2 separate regions of the Homo sapiens genome follow, and region 2 is linked to region 1. A link means that fine-mapping ties the variant in region 1 to the expression of a gene that starts in the linked region. Tissue or cell type: aorta. Region 1 holds a variant in brackets; the other region holds the start of a gene. All regions are shown on one strand. Distances are from middle to middle.

Region 1 (8,110 bases):
GGATGAAAGGAGGGAAGGGTGGAGGATACAAAGAATCCTAACTTGGAAGGCTAAGTAGGTCAGCATGCCATTCTCCAAGAAAGGGAGTTTGGGAAGAGGAACAAGTCTTTACTGGAAGGTTATAAATTTGGTTTAGGCAACTCTTTTAATGTCAATTATTTATTAGGCACAGAATAAGAGTTGTCTGTCTGTGGTCAGTGGAACTATGGTTTAGTATTTAGAAGAGCTAAGACTTCAGAGAGAGGTTTTGGGGAGAGTTTCAGTATGGTCAAAAGTAGCAGAGAAATCTAGGAAGATAATACAGAATACAACTCATATGAAATTGGCAATTAGGGATCGTTGCAGATAATTTTCAAGAGCAAAGCCAGTGGTGGTATGGCAGAAAAGACCTTAGTTGAATGACTGGAAGTTGGTGTGGTAGACACTGCTAATATTGCAAATATCTACTCTCCCAGTCTTTGTCAATAGATCCTTGGTTTTATTCAAAGGGCCATGAGCAGCTAGGGATGAACATATGAGATATTTTTGGTCAATGAGACATATGTAGAAGTCTGTTGGAGATTTCTGAGAAAGTTTGTGGATCTTGACAGGCATTGCTTCTTTTCATTTTTCCTCTTTGCTCTTCCTGCTTCTTCTGTCCTAGAATACTATAAGAGACAACAAAGATGACAATGATTGTCTACACATTTAGGGTGATGAGAAAGATAGCATTGTGGAGCCCTGAACTGATTCTGACCAATCTGCCTCTAGAGACCTTCTTTTGTAACTCAAACAAACTGTTGAATAGCTTTAATCAGATAACCTAGGGCTTTATTAGTTGGGTGTCTTTTCATGATCAGAAGCTAAGTCCTCAAGTTGGTATTAAACCTGGCCATTGACAACAAAGAATCTCGGAGACTTAAAGTTGAAGGCAAGATCCACTTGCCATCCATTTATTAATTATTCTATGGCCACTGACATCAAAATAGTTTGGGGTAGCTCTAAAAATGCAAATGCCAGGTCATACCTATAGACTAACTGCATTGGACTATCTGGGAATGGAGCCCGGAAATCTACTTTTAATGCACTGAAGTTTGAGAAATACAGCATTGATTATGATTCTTCTGTGCCACTTTCAGATTCATGCATGTTCGCTACACTATACGCAGCCTGTGAAAGTGAGTTTGTGTCATTCCACTGGGGATGGATGGTTATGCCTATATCTGGATAAGTTAAAGAAACAATTAAAGAGCTAATTGGAAATCTAGTCATTAGAAAAGTCAGGCTTGGATGCTGACATGCTCTAGGTTGATTCTATAATACGTAACATCAATACCTAGTGCCTTACAAGTCTGTGAAGGAATGGGAGATCTTGAGGGCTACTGAATAACTGAAGGGAAAACAATTAGGGTGTGAATCTTTTCCTCTCCCTCCTCATTGAGCCCACAGGCACAGGCACATGTGATATCTCTGGGGAAAGCAGTAAGAAATATTCCCATAGAGATAAGGAAGGGTGGGGGGAAGATTGGAGTTCAAAGCAAAGTTGGATAGTTTCATCATCTGTGTTTTCCGCAATTAGTCAAGTTTTCACACCACACTATAGTTCTCGTTTGGGTCACTAGACTATTATTATATGCTTCCGCCTGCCATTTTAATTTTAAGTAACTTAGCAGATTTTTTTCTTCTTATGTTAACACAGGTAACATCTAGCAAGCAGTTTACATTGACCCTGTACAACAACCAAAAGTGGATGAAGTTTTGACTTGTTTATTTGTAGTTTCTTTCTTTGAACGTGGAGTGTCTGAAGAGATTTTTTTTCCAGTATGGTATGTTGTCCAAATGGAAATATTCTGCAAAGTAATGACATAAGGATAAAACCAAGATAGAGAGCTGACATCATTATGTTTGACAGAGCATATACAGGACTTATTCTGAAATTGAAGTGATCAAAGCTAACCTCACGAAAAAATGCAAACCCTCAAATGTTGTATGAAAATATACATAAACCAAATTTGTAAAGCAATACTAATGACATTTTTTAAAAAGTAAACTCCATCTAAAAAGACTCATCAGCTCCACTGTAGTCCAAAAGCTTGTTGGGTGGCAGAAATGATGATGATTAAAACCTGAGACGTCAGCAAAACTCTTTCACATCTTCAAAAATGTGAAAACAAACCTTAAGGCAAAATGTTAAAAATAGGCTCATTTTGGTGAAATGAAGCTGTTTGAATAAATAAAATTAATAGTTTTTATCTAAACCATCTGTGGTGTGAAATGGGAAGTCATATAGAAAAGTCCTTAGAGACTTCTGATCGCTCTACATTAGAAAGGAGAAGGGGCGGAGAAAAAAATGGGACCTCTTTCTATCTCTATGGGAATTAACAAAGTGATCAGCAAAGGGAAGCTGCAGGCCAACTTGCTCTGGTTGCAGGCAATCTGGCTTTTCCAGCTGTCCAGAAGTCGAAGGTAAATGTTCTGAAAACATAAGACCAGAATCATTTCAGTAAACCAATAGGTAGTATAAAGTAACAGATTCTCCTGGAAGTAAGGAAAGAAAGGAGGAGAGACAGAAAGAGAGAGGGGGACCTAAACTCCCAGAGACTTAGTACTATAAAGGACTGTCACTTCTGTTTTGTTGGTCTCCTGAAACCACATCATGAAACCAGATGTTAAAAATGGCCCAACTCAACAGCTAGAATGGCTTTGTAGGTGTAAGTATTTTGTAATAGTACCTGGAAATTGCAGTTTCATTTAGACACATTGTTCTTTCTTTTGTTCATGTATGAAACTCTTGCTAAGACAAGATTTAGGTTTCTGTGGGTCTATCTTGATAAAAAACAAAAACAAAGTAAAATATGAAATACCCCAGAATTGGTTCCAAATTTGTAGAGAGATGAATTCTGAGGATTTTCCTCAGGCTAGAGAAACCAGATAGTCCTCGCAAAGGCAAATCTAGTAAGATAAAAGTACAGGCTGCTTTTATACAGGACAATTTCTACACGTCTGTGCATTATACCAAGATGTTAGGTTTCTGGAGGGACTTTACCCATGGACCACAAGCAATGGGGATAACTTCGTTGGTTTTTGGGTAATCATAGTGGGGTCCCAACAGTTTGTCGAGGACCCCTCACTTAATTCATTGGCTTTATCAGATTCAGTCTTGGAATTGGTATACCCCTTCATCTCCCACACTTAGTTAACTCGTCTGAATAATCAAATAATTACAGGCCAATGGGAAGCAACCAAACTTATAAAAGAGCTATGAAGAATAAGTGTGCCACATGCTATCCTACAAAGCATGACAGGAATACATGTAAGGGATTTTTTTCCCTGCCCCTACCCTGGCCTTTCTTTGATTCTATTTAAAGCAGTATTGAGTATTTTTGGGATTAAAGGTTGAAGCTGTAGTCTTGTAATTTGATTAGCAACAATGTGCTTTAAATCCAGTGATAGAACTCTTGCTTTGCTGTAAGGTCTGAGGTACCTTTGGAGCAAGTAAGAGGGTGTATTTCTGTACAAACTGGCACTTGGCCTAATTTCTCAGTGTGATCAGGCCTCTGCAGAGAGAGTTCTTGCCCTAGAAAATGACCACAGTGCCCTTAAGCCCAGAGCTATTTTAGAACTTAGAACACTCAATGACTTATGGTCACAGATTAATTTTTAAGTAAATTCTGTCCTCTTGATTTTTCTTTGCCCCAGACTGGGCTTCAGAGCCAGACTCAGTGGGGCTGAGGCAAACGCACACCTTTCTTGTGTTCTCAATGTCTATAGTCACTTTATTTCTCTGATTGTAAGTGCTGAATTAGTGTTATTTCTCATCCCACTACCACCCCCCATTGTGATATGTGGAAAGGACCAGAGAGACAGCTTTAGGGTGTTCATGGTGGAAAGTGACATATTCAGGGATGAGCGGATGGCTCATTTGTCTGTACCTTGGAATCTGGCTGGATTTGATCCTGATTCAAATGTCAAGCATCAGAGTGCATCAACAGCAGAGACACCAAAATGAAGTTATTTAAAAGTTAAACGTTGGTAAACACCTGCTTGAAATGTCCTTGTAGACAGCTTAGCTTCTAAGCCACCTCCCTCCTTCCCCCAACCCCATGCCTTAGAGTGTAATGGAAAGTGCCGGCAGAGAAAGGGTTAAGAGATGACAATGTCCTTTTGCATCTGCTCTGACAACTTAGTCCTGCCTGATGCAATGCAAAAAGGCTGATATTAATCCCCCCAAAAGCAGTCATATTGGAAAGGCTAATGTGACTTTCACCACAACACTGGGCCCT[T/G]TGTAGTCTGATGTTTAATTCCATTGGAATGTTATTCTTTCCATTGCTTTTCTGACTATACTTGGATTTGAAACTACCAGGTCTTACTCCAGTACAAAACTCAATCTGCCTTGTGTTTGACAGACTTCAAAACATCCAAATCTGTTTTATTCTACGGGTTTCCACTGAATCAAAAAGCAAGGTGCATGCTTTACCAAGTAAGTGGCTTGTCCTCCTTCAGAGTTCTTGGGAGAAATCCCAGTTCCAGCGCTAAAGATGAATGGCCACTACTGAACTTCTCAGCATCCCACTGTGGGGTCTTTTCCTAGCTATATGGCAGATATGGCATGTGCCTGGCCTGAAGAAACAAAACATTAATTTTGGAATTCTGATGGCTTTAAACCTTTGATCATCACTTTCTAACTGTCTTTAAAACATTTTGCCTACAACAGTTGCAAGCTGTGGTTTTTTTGTCTGTGTGAGGTGACTAACAGTGCTACCGCTACCGCTCTCTATGTGGGGAATGTATTCATCTAGCACCCAAAACCACCTACTGGCTTCCGGCACCTCTTATCAGCTAAGCCATCAGCCCTGAGCTGACATTTCAGCATTCAGAAGCTCCCTACCCCCACCAGAAGTAAGTGACAGGAGGAGAAAAAAGCTCATTTGGCAATAGTTTGCTTTTGCTGTTTGGCCTGGAGAAAGACATTCAGAGTGGTAGAAGATTGTTTAGGAACAGCTGGCGAGCACCAGGGTGTGAGGCTGATTTTCAGATATGACAGCCACTTACAGGAATGCTGCCAGATACAGCTGTTTAAAAGCCTTAATAAACAGCAAGTCAATACTAATCTTTGCCAAATTAATCTTTTCCCTGACAGCCTATCAGAGCAATTATGTTTGGGCTTATTGTAAACATACAATTGTCAAACAGGGACGCTCCAGACTTTAAAATACTGTAGTTTGGTTCATACTCTTTCTTTAGAATGGGATTTTTGTTTTCTCTGTAGTATCGTAAGTCTTTCCATTTTATTTTCTAGTCACTGTTCTTTTCTTCTGGCCTCATGTCAGTGTGAATAAAATTTCACTTTCAAATGTCTTTGCTAGCAAGCTGTTAATAAAATGTGAAATGATTCCTGCTGGTGGGCTTCATTAATTAGGCGCAACTCTGACCGTGCTGAACTATAACAGGTCATTGTTCTCAGTTGTCTCTCATCCGGGAACAAGAACTTCATCTTCACTTCTTCTCATCTACTACATTGCAGGCTGATGCTGGATACAAATGACAAGATGTTTGGCTAAGTATGAAATGAGAAGGCAAAGTCTAATCTCTCTGTGTACACGTAGATTGCCAAGTGTGTCTAACTTGGGTTTGAAGTTACCTCTTCCTCCCGCGGCTCCCAGCCTTCCTCCTCCGTGGTTGGTGAGGTTAGGGGGCTCCCCATCCCCTTTCTCCAAGCAATGGTCTTGTGTACAGATTTGGAGACTTTTTTTTTGTTAGGAAAGGTTTTCCACACTGGGAAATCGTTCCAAATAAAAGTAGAGAAATCGCCTTTGAAAATCCTAAAAAATAGAACCAGGAAATACAGTCTTTTCCTTGCTTCACCAAGTCATACTAACACTTGGTAATTAGAAAAAAAAAATTCAGTATCCTGTTCATCAATAGTTTAATTTAGAATCCATGAAACTTGTCTCCTGAATGTTCTCTCTTGTGTTTGACACCCTACATGTCTAGCACCTCTTTTCTCCCTTCTTATTTTCTTGGTGAGACTAGTGTGTATTAGATCTTTTACTTTTGTCACAAATAGAAAAGCTCTTGTTCAACTATGTAGGCCAAAAAAATATGGCATAACTCATTTTGAAATTCTTTCAATCTTTTTGTAACCCTAGGTTTTTAATGAAACATTTGCATCTTCACTCCTAATGCTTGCCTGTAATATTCAATTCCCATCTATATTTAAAGAGCCTTTAAATCATCAAGAAAACACCATACAATTCCTGTTGAGGATAATTGATGATGTTTTATTGATCTTTCTTTGTATCATTGCATTTTTTGTGCATCTACTGTGTGCTATGACATTCCAAATTGTTTTGGAGATAAGGAAATTGTTGAATTTCAGGCAGACAAAGAGATTTTTACCATGGGGTGACTCACATGAATTCAACCATTAAGTGGAAGGGTGACTTAGATTTAGAGGTTAAACTCATGATACGAATTTTTAACCTTGCCTTGCCACTATTTTAATATTTAATAATCAGCAAAAGAGATGAATTTTCTGTTTCTATCCTTCCTTGAAAATAACAATTATGGCTGGACACGGTGGCTCATGCTTGTAATCCCAGCACTTTTGGGAGGCTGAGGCACGTGGATCGCTTGAGCCCAGGAGTTCAAGACCAGCCTGGGCAACATGGCAAAACCCTGTCACTGCAAAATATAGAAAAAAATTAGCCAGGCGTGTTGGCATGCACCTGTGGTCCCAGCTACTTGGGAGGCTGAGGTGGGAGGATTGGTTGAGCCCGGGAGGTAGAGGTTGTGGTGAGCCAAGATTGTGCCACTGCACTCCAGCCTGGGTGACACAGTGAGGCCCTGTCTCCAGAAAAAAAAAAAAAAAAGAAATAAAAGAAAAAAAAAGAAAATGACAATTATGAGTGGAATAAGAAAATGTAGGTCAAATCTCTATTTAACGGATAAACATGAGGACGTCTATGTTTAACAAAAACTTTCTGTTCCAGCAGATAACCTATTTATTACAAATGTTCATATGAATTTTTTACTATAACAAAGAAATATGAATGGCTATTGGGATTTACTGGTAATTTAAAATATTCCTTGTTTAATATAACATACCTGTCTAGGACTCATTCTAAGTGGGGTACCTTGTAAACAAACATAATTGATTATTCCTTTGAGCATTTTCTCCCAGGACTTTGTAAAGTACTTCTAATTCCATTTGAAATTACATATCAAGTTATGGTCAAAACCCCATTGTCTCTAATTCCCACACCTTTTGGTTGAATCATATGAAATTACCATTTCATAGATAAAACAGGTCAAATATTAGCAATTTCATATGGTTCAGTCTAATCACTTTTCCAATGAGTGGGACAACTCTTTTGCAAAGGGCAAGAGATCCATAGAAAAGGGATTGGTTGTTGATGTGCTAATTTTAAGTCATGCATTCATAAGTTTAAGAAATATCTTAGTAATGAATCTGAGCCAGAGTATACATTGACCCTTGATTAACAAGGGTTTGAAGCAAGCAAGTCCACTTATGTGCAAATTTTCTTTCATCTCTGCCACATCTGAGACAGCGAGACTAACCCCCTTCTTCCTCCTCCTCCTCAGCCTATACAATATGAAGAAGAGGATGAAGACCTTTATGATAATCCACTTCCACTTATTGACACTAGTTAATAACTTATTTCTCTTCTTTATGATTTTCTTAATAACATTTTCTTTTCTCCAGCTTACTTTAAGAATACAGTATATAATACATAAAACATAGAAAATATGTGTCACTCAACTGATTATGTTATCAGTAAGGCTTCTCCTCAACAATAGGCTATTAGTAGTTAAGTTTTGCGGGGGTCAAAGTTGCATAGGCATTTTCAACTGCGTGGGTGTGGGGAGGAGTTGGTGCCCCGACCCCTGCATTGTTCGAGGGTTGACTGTATTGCTTTGGTGGCCACGGCTTCCCATGGACTGCTTGTGGTCCATGCAGACAGGCCTCTTTGCGTTTAACACAAATAATAAAAATAATCACAGAGACCAACTTCATCCTTGGCTATAATTTGACTAACTGGAAGTCATTATTTGACTCATTTTGCCTTATCAACTCGGTCACATTTGAATGGGAATCAGGATTTTTGAA
Region 2 (8,110 bases), 320 kb after region 1:
CACTGAGAACAGTGAAGCCCATTATTTCTCCTCCCACTGCAGGCCGAGGTCACCATCCCTGTCATTAGCCATGTCATAACATAATTGTATTACTACTCCTTATGTGGGCAGATACTGAGCAATAACTGAACACATCACATCGTTGTAAAAATGAAAAAGTACCACTTCTTTGTCCTATCTTAGCATAAAACCAGTGAAAACAATCTTTGGAAATGACGCTGCACTAAGAAACTGAAAAGAACTGTTATTACTCTGTAGGTATATATTTAAACTGATGATCTGACATCTTTAACTAGAATAGAAAACAAGACTATATCACTACAGAACTCCAATTGTAAGCTCATTTAATCCAATTTATTTTGGTAGCATTCAGCTCAATTAAGGGATACAATGTTACTTAAAATAGTCTAATTAGATGAAACTCCACTATGGTACTCATCTTTCAATGTCTGAAATATAACCATGCATTAGGCTGCAAGAGGTGAATACTGTTAACTCCAGCCTCCATGTGTCTGTCCAGTCTATGAGCTACACTGCTATTTCCAACACTGACCTATATACAGCAACATGCCATCCGTTCTGGCTGTTTGTGTAAGAGATGCCTCACACACTTGCCTTAACCAACATCATTCGCATTGTTCCCACAATGGGCTATGTGAAAATGGAGGCTACTTTGCATAGTGATATGTTCATAACGTGTATTAGTCTTACAGTAGAGCAATACTAGATTAAACCGTTTCCAAAAATGCCTCCTCCAGAGTTTATTAACTGAAAAATGTAAGTAGCATTTTGGCAATCTATAGAGCAGCAGTGCCGGAAAGTGTCAGCAGAGTAAAACAATCACATTTTAGTTTAGAAAGCTTCAGGAAGAGAATATTCATTTTCTCCATTAGAGTCTCTTCTGACATTGAAAAAAATGTCACCGGGAAACTGTAGCTACAGTTGTAGGATTCTAAAGCACAGATAGATACTGGTTCCGCTGGGATTTAGCACACCAACTTTAAATAAGCAAAGTGTTGACAGGTTTAAAATAAAGATAATTAGTAATTTATGATCTTATCACCCTATTAAAAACAAATCACCTGACAAACTGACTGCTATTTGTAGTAAGCTACATATTCATTACGCCTCCGAAGGAAGCAAGATTTACTTTGCAGTATTGTTCTTTTGGGGATGTCTGATCCAACTTGTTTTAATAAATGTAGGCACAGATTTCTTACTTCACCTTTTCCAAACTTCTGTCCTTCTTCCATTTCCCTGCAAATCCACTCATGTCATTGCAAAAACAAATGCTAGTTGACTGCATTATGCACAACTACAATTGTGGAGCTGGACAGAAATTTTGTACCAATGCTAATCATGGTGGAGTGAAAAAACTCAAGTGCCTGGGATTTGTGGGGCCTAGAAAACTATCCAGTACATTTAATATAATCGGGACCAGTGACAAATATATCTGATGGACTGCTACACAGAGATGGGCCAGAGATGTCCCTGGAGAAACATTTCCATGAAGTCTTCTTCCACTATTAGAAACATGTCTTATGACTTTGGATTTTAAAAAATCTATTATTCTCTGGATAAGTTAAATAGAAGACTCGCAACTAGTCTACAGAAAGGGTGCCTAATTTGCATTTAAAAAGAACAGTTTGCTTCTTATACACGGGGTGACTTAAAAGGAACTTCAATGAGCTAGTAAAGAAATTCTGAATACTTTCTAAATTAATTTATTCAATTCACAGCACAACCCACTAAAATTATTTAAAGCACTTAATTGGAAAATGATTTAATATATTGAAGTAATTCCTGATTTTCCAAAGCATTTAACTTTTAAATTAAATCTGACCCTACTTATCACAAGAACGAGGAGTGAAATGTGTATCCAAGTCATTAACTTCTTTTTGGGGCCTAAAATCACTGATAAACTTAATAAGATTTGTCCAGTCTCATTGCCAAAATAGTTCTGAGCTTTTGGTTCCGGTAACTACAGTGGAATAAGTCTTTACTCTCCAAGATAGGGCTGCAACTTTATTATTTTTTATTAGCAATAGTATTGGTGTCATAAGCAAAATAAAACGTAACACAATACTTGAGTGTACAGACAAAACAGATTTTAGACTAAAAGAACTATGTCACCAGCAAATAATGAAACTTCATCACACAAACTCCTATGCGCTTGCCAAAGTTCCCCGTACCTTTCAACTTGCCCGTAGCTGAAGGGCTCCCTGTACAATGGAAGCCCTTCTGCCTTGCTCAAGACTGGATGTCCCTCTTTTCTAACTTGCCTAAACACCATCGGCACACAGCACAGTCCTTTGAGTGGGTCTCACACTGGACACAGCATCGAGGAGCTTCTCCACGGGGAAGTGTGTGTGTGAGAGCCTGCCTGTGTGTCAACACTGTCCAAGACTCGGAGCTGCGACTCGGTCGCGTGGTGCGGAGTCCAGGGCTGAGAAGGCAGCGCACTAAATATCTCTGTATCAGGTAAAAAAGCCGTTTGGTGATGACTCGCCACCAGGCAAATGTTGGGAGTCCCAACGATTTTTCCCGTGGAATGCACCGAGGGTCGCCATGGATGTGCCTGCAGGGGCTGTGAGTATCAGGCAGATTTATCACCAAGCGAGAGTTGGGCGTCTAAAAGGCCCGCCCAGCGTTTTAGAGAACTCAATTCTCTCTGCCAACGTTCATCCAACGGGACTGCTTAGACACGTCCAACTAGCCCTAGGCGTGGGCAGTCGTGCCCCTGCGACCACTCTGGGGGACCGGTCCCTGCGTGTCCTCCCTCTCTGGGATGAGAGAGTTCGAGAAGCCGGGAGAGTAACCCCCTCCCTCGTACCCCCTGACTGTCCTATAGGTGGACCCAGCCGAACTCCGCAGCAGCCCAGGCCAGCGCCCCACCTCCGGGTCACCGGCATGATCCGCCTCTCCCCGGGCCCCCGCGGCCCTGGCACCCGAGGTCAGCGGGCCGTGGGTACAGCTCAGCCGCGGACCCTGCTCCGCGAGTGCGGGAGCTTTGGACTTGAACGCGACGTGCTCGCCCGGCTCCCAACAAACTTGCAATTTCCGCGCGCACCCCTTAAACAGGAACTGTTCCCCAAACCTTGACCCAGCTACCCCGCTGTGCTCTGGCCCGCGGACCTGTGTCCGAACCCGGGCTCGGCTGCCGGAACCGGTTTGAGAAAACAAAAGAGTTGTGGGGCAGTTTTCCCTGTGGGGGGCAGGGGCGCCTCCCAGGTCCCTGCACCCCGACTCCCGGCTGCTCCCCTGGCAACTAATCCGGAGAAGGGAAGTGGTGCCACGAGCCCCCACTGCCCGGGGAGGGAGGGAGAGAGAAGGGGGAACTGGGAAATAAACTGAATTCTCTTACTCTGCCTCCGTTCCTGGACCCCAGACACACCCCCAAAGTATTCCACGGTTTTCTCTTATTATTTTTTTAAACGCCCCCCGGCAAACCTAGGCAGGGATCCTTAGCCGCGAACAGCAGGAAGGAAAGAATCCGAGCAAATCGTGTCACTTTCCGCACAATCGCGGTGTTTGGCAAGCCCCCGGAGCTACTCCACAATATTTACTACCCAAGCGCACGCAGGCTGCAGCGGGCTGCGAGCCGAGCGCGCCCGGGACCGGCCTCCGCCAAGCCGGCCCCGCCGCGGCCCGGCCACCGCCGCTCCCCTCCCAGGATCAAGCAGCAAGAACACGGTGGAAACAAAAGCAGAGCGTTCACCTTGTTGCAATAGTAGGGGTCCAGGCAGGGAGAAGGTCCCAGACAGGGAGCGTCGGGCGCAGCGGCGGGCTGGGCTGGAGGTGGATAAAATCTTACGTCCATTTCACTCTCACATCAAGCAACTCCTTTTCTTTTTCCTTTTTTAAAAAAAAGTGTTCAGCAAAACAAGCTTAGACGGAACAGAGTGAGGTGTCTGGGCTCAGGAGTAAAAGAAACACCTTCCTTCCCTCACATCCGTTTGTGGTTTGTTTAAGAAGAAGAGGAAAAAAAAAAAAAAGAGGGGGGAAAAGCGCTCAACTCTCCCCCAAGCCGCGGCGCGCACCCGTCGGCGCCGAGCGCGCAGCCTGCTCCACCGCCGCCTCTTGGTCCCGCCGCCGCCGCTGCCGCCGCCGCCGGGCAGGTAACTTCATGCGCTCATTGTCCCCCCCGCCCGCCCCCCCATCCCCGCCTCCCGCGCCCCTCGCAGCCCGGCACACGCGCTCGGGCTCTAGGTACTGGGCGTTTTATTGGAGATTCTGAGTTGTTCTGCTTGTAGTTTATTTTCTCCACCTTGGAGGCCCGGGATGTGGGGGGTGGGGGGGTGGGGCGGGGATCCAGAAGGGACAGGGCGGGAGGGGGGCGAGCGTCCCGGGCCGGGCGGGGTAGGGAGCGCGGCCGGACGCGGGCTCGTCAAGGCCCAATGGCTGCTGTTCGGAACCAGAGGCCGGGGACCGGAGAAAGGAGGAGCGGAGAAGGAGAAGGAGGAGAGCACGGCCTGGCTGGGACAGAAGCGGTGGGACCCTGGGAGGCCTCCGCTGTGCCCGTGCCGCGCTCCTCGGGACCAGCGCGTCGCACACAAAGGGGCTGCCGAGCCAGAGCCACCAGCGGCCTCAGGGCACCGTGGGGAGCGCGCAGCTAGGGGGCGCTGTGGCGCACCCCGCCCCGCAGCCCCGCCCCCGGCCCTCCCCGGCCCCACCCCACTCCCACCGCCCTCTCCGCGGCCGTCCCCACCCCTATCTCCGCGACCCCCACTCCTCCTCGGCTGTTCCCCAACCCTGTCACTGTGCTCCCCTCCCTACTCCCGGCCCGTAGTGGAGGTGACTTTCCTGCGCAGCGCCGCTTCTGAGGGCGGAGAACCCACAGGGAGTGCGACCCCTTTGCACGCTGTGAGTGGGCAACTGTCCGAGGGACTCGAGCCGATCGAAGGGTGAGGACCAGCTCGCCTGGGGGTGGACGGCCTGGAAAAGCCGCCCCTCTTTGGCTTCCCTCTGCCGCCTGCAGCCCGCACCCCTCCGAGATTCGTGCCCCACTGGACGGTTTGCGAAGGCTGAGGCTGCCTTGGGGACTCACAAAAGACCACAGGGGTGATTCGAAGTGTAAATAGGGAAACAATCATCAGCACACAATCCGGCTAAAGGGATAACATATGAGTTTGCTTGTTGTCCTTCATGGGATTCTTCTCTTTTTATAGCTGGACGCCCTATAGGGCTCTTGGCAGTCCACGAAAGACCTGGAGTCCGCCTCCCCATTTCTCCGGTCGGTGAGTGGCAGGAGGAAATCGCCAAACATGTTTTCCCGCTTTGCCTCCCCAACTCGGAAACTTGCAACTTGCCGTGTCCTGGAGGTTGAGACAATTTGGGGTCTCTTGGCTGCCGTCCAACAGATTTATCTCTGAGGGCAGTGTCCTTGGTGAGAGGTCCAAGTAGGTGTGGGCGACATTGTCCTCCATCTCATGAGGGAGCAGCCCTGCACACTAGGGCCCAAAACTCTGCGAAGGAGCTTGGAAGTTCTTCATCCGTTCCACTTGTTTTGCTACTCCACACACCCTTCTAGGACATGTTGATTGCCAACTGCTCTGTGCAGCTTTCCCATAGCTGTCTGTTCCCGTGCATTTCGGAGCACCAAGCAAATACGAGCAGAGAGACCTGGAAAAAAAAATGATGAAGACAGTATTAATGATAAAATTAACATGGCTGAGTGAATTGTCAATGCAAGTTCCTTTACTAACTCTTTGTTAAGTTTTGCTTTGTACTCCTTACATCCTCTTTCTCTTAAGCCATTGTTTTAATTTCTTCTCGTTATCATTTTTAAAAGTAACAGAAATACAGCTTTCTTCCTACCTTCACGATTGACTTGGTGGAGGTTGGGTTGCAAAGAGGAAGCAGTAAGAAAAAATAATTATTCTATACATTCACAAGTCCTTCAAGGCACAAAATAAAAGTAAGAAATAGAAAATATGTCCTTTCTCCTAATAAAGGTCTTTATAATAAAATTTAAATGAAGTTTTGTGTTTCATAACAGCTTCCCAAATACTGTTGTAGATACTAAAATGTGCCTGTATGTATTTCCTTCCACAATAATAATAGTAATAATAAACTTTTTTAGGTCCAAATTAAACATTTCTCAGCTTAAATTTCTATCCTCAATCCAACATTTATTATATCAAAACTTGATTTTTAAAAATAAAACTTTCTTGGAATTCATCATTGATGTCTGTTTGATGGCCTCGTGAACATCAGGAAGATGAAATGAAATGGTTCAAGACTGGAACAATACCATTATCTGCATCTTGACTCCTGGGAGATAATGATATCTCCTGCTTTCCTCTACAGACCTACCAGTTTTCTCTGCTTTAAGGGAAAATCCAAATGCATGAGACCTGTGCATTCTTCTACATAATCAAGAGTCTGGTTTCTTCCATCGGAGTGTATGGAGTTAAAGTGGTATACTGTACATGGCATGGTGTGATAGGTGGGAATATGAGCTACTGGGGGAAAAAGTTCTTACTTCTAGCCACTTATACAAAGAGAGGCCATCTCAGTGTAATCTGAAAAAATGCTCACTTTATAATGCTGTATCCAAGGCCCATCAAAAACTAAATGGATGTATTTGTACTAAAAGTTGGGGAAAGTTGAATATCTAAACCTCTGAGCAAATCTTTCTTAATTTAGAAAATAAAATAGAGCATCATTGTAATACTTTTCAGTTTCCTGGACATTCAACTCCACATCATGGATAAATAAAATAGTTATTTGTCCATTCACTCATTCATTTGTACATTAATCAACAGAGAGAGTGGTGAAAAACACTAATGCTTTGTATTATTTATAGGTTTAAAATACAAAACAAATTACTTAAAATGGTTCCTGCTCTAGATGTAGTCTTTCAGAGTAGTATTTTCCAAACTAGTCTGGTCAGTGAAGTCATCTTAGCAGTTTAGAAAAATACTCATGCCAGAGCCCCACACGCACAGATTCTGATTCAGTTCTTTTCAGGTAGGGCCTGAGCACAGGAATTTTTAAAAGCTCTCCAGTGGCTTTAATTTTCAGAAAAGATTGAGAACCACTGGCCTAAAAGGAAAGATAAGGTAGTCTAGAAGGAAAGAGTCCTTAACAAAGGAAATGTTAAAAGTATGAAATTTTAGTAGATAGGCTGGATTGTCATTTTGTGTTGATCCCCATAAGAGGACATTGAGGATCACCACTCCCAAAACCTCATCACCTACGCTGCCTTTTAGAGATGGAGTTGGCAATTTGCCCATTTACTGTCAGTAAACTTGCATGACTTGTAAAGGTCCAGGTTACAGTTTATTCACCTGACCTAGGAACTTTATGTACTCTAGTTACCAGAAAATGAGTGCCTGTAAACAAAACGTGTCTTTACCAGTGCTGATGTAATGCTATCAGTACCTACTTGTGAAATGCCTACTATATCGTGGACCTGGTCCTAATTTCTTTACATTGAATTTCGCAGTCTTATTTAATTTTCCAGATTACTTTGGAAAGCCTCATCAGTAATTACAAACCACACGGAGCATTTGATTTTGTTCCCTCAACATTGCCCATCTTCACTTTAATTATAGTTTCACAAATTGTTACGTTTTCAAATTTATACTTGTTTTCAGTGACCACATTTTATGTCTACTGATTCTTTGTATTATGTAGGTTAAGTCCTAAATCTTGTAGTAATGTCTCCAAATCACATACAGAATGTGTTACTTTGGGGAAAATAGCTTTTAGACAGTTAATCCTATCTGTGATTTACAAGAGTCTTATAAAAATTATTCAACAAACCATGGTACTTCCTGGCAGGCATTCTTTGCTAGATTTTGGAGTTAGTTTTTCTTCAAGGGTTGAAGCCCTCTATAGATGCACATGAGAATGAAATGTCATATAGAGGGGTTGATTTTGAAATGCCAGATATTAAAACTAAAATCAAAGCCTGCCGTATTGTATAACTAAATTAATATTTAGCCCTTCACTGGCCTTTCTGATTTATGGGCTAGTTTTCCAGTGACAGCTGATGTCGCAATATTTCTAGGGAAAAGAAAGCCTCATTCTTTTAAAATACCATTCATTTTATACCTCATATGGCCCACCTAGGATTTTAAGCCCTCATTGGACATGTGTATAC

Alleles and levels. Alleles are on the strand shown, and positions count from the first base shown. SD is a standard deviation of normalised expression in the study named.
For the expression in aorta of the gene that starts at base 3,980 in region 2, allele T in region 1 goes with a lower level than allele G (large effect, 0.84 SD a copy in GTEx).

What was found. PIP is the estimated chance that this variant, and not a neighbour inherited with it, causes the effect.
Region 2: it holds the start of TOX, and the variant in region 1 is fine-mapped to the expression of TOX in aorta (GTEx, PIP 0.93).

The regions. Positions count from the first base shown.
Region 1 is chr8:58,796,804-58,804,913 of GRCh38, forward strand. No RefSeq gene overlaps it. Among named protein-coding and RNA genes, the nearest start is that of NSMAF, 140 kb to the left of the region's middle. The variant T/G (reference allele first, on the strand shown) is at 4,263.
Region 2 is chr8:59,115,168-59,123,277 of GRCh38, forward strand. TOX (thymocyte selection associated high mobility group box) reads right to left here and starts at 3,980. Exons shown (of 9, transcript NM_014729.3): 1 at 3,719-3,980. The coding sequence starts at 3,820. It overlaps TOX-DT (TOX divergent transcript), which reads left to right and starts at 4,043. Exons shown (of 3, transcript NR_149031.1): 1 at 4,043-4,118; 2 at 4,790-4,904; 3 at 5,169-8,110. RefSeq lists silencers at 617-666, 4,505-4,724.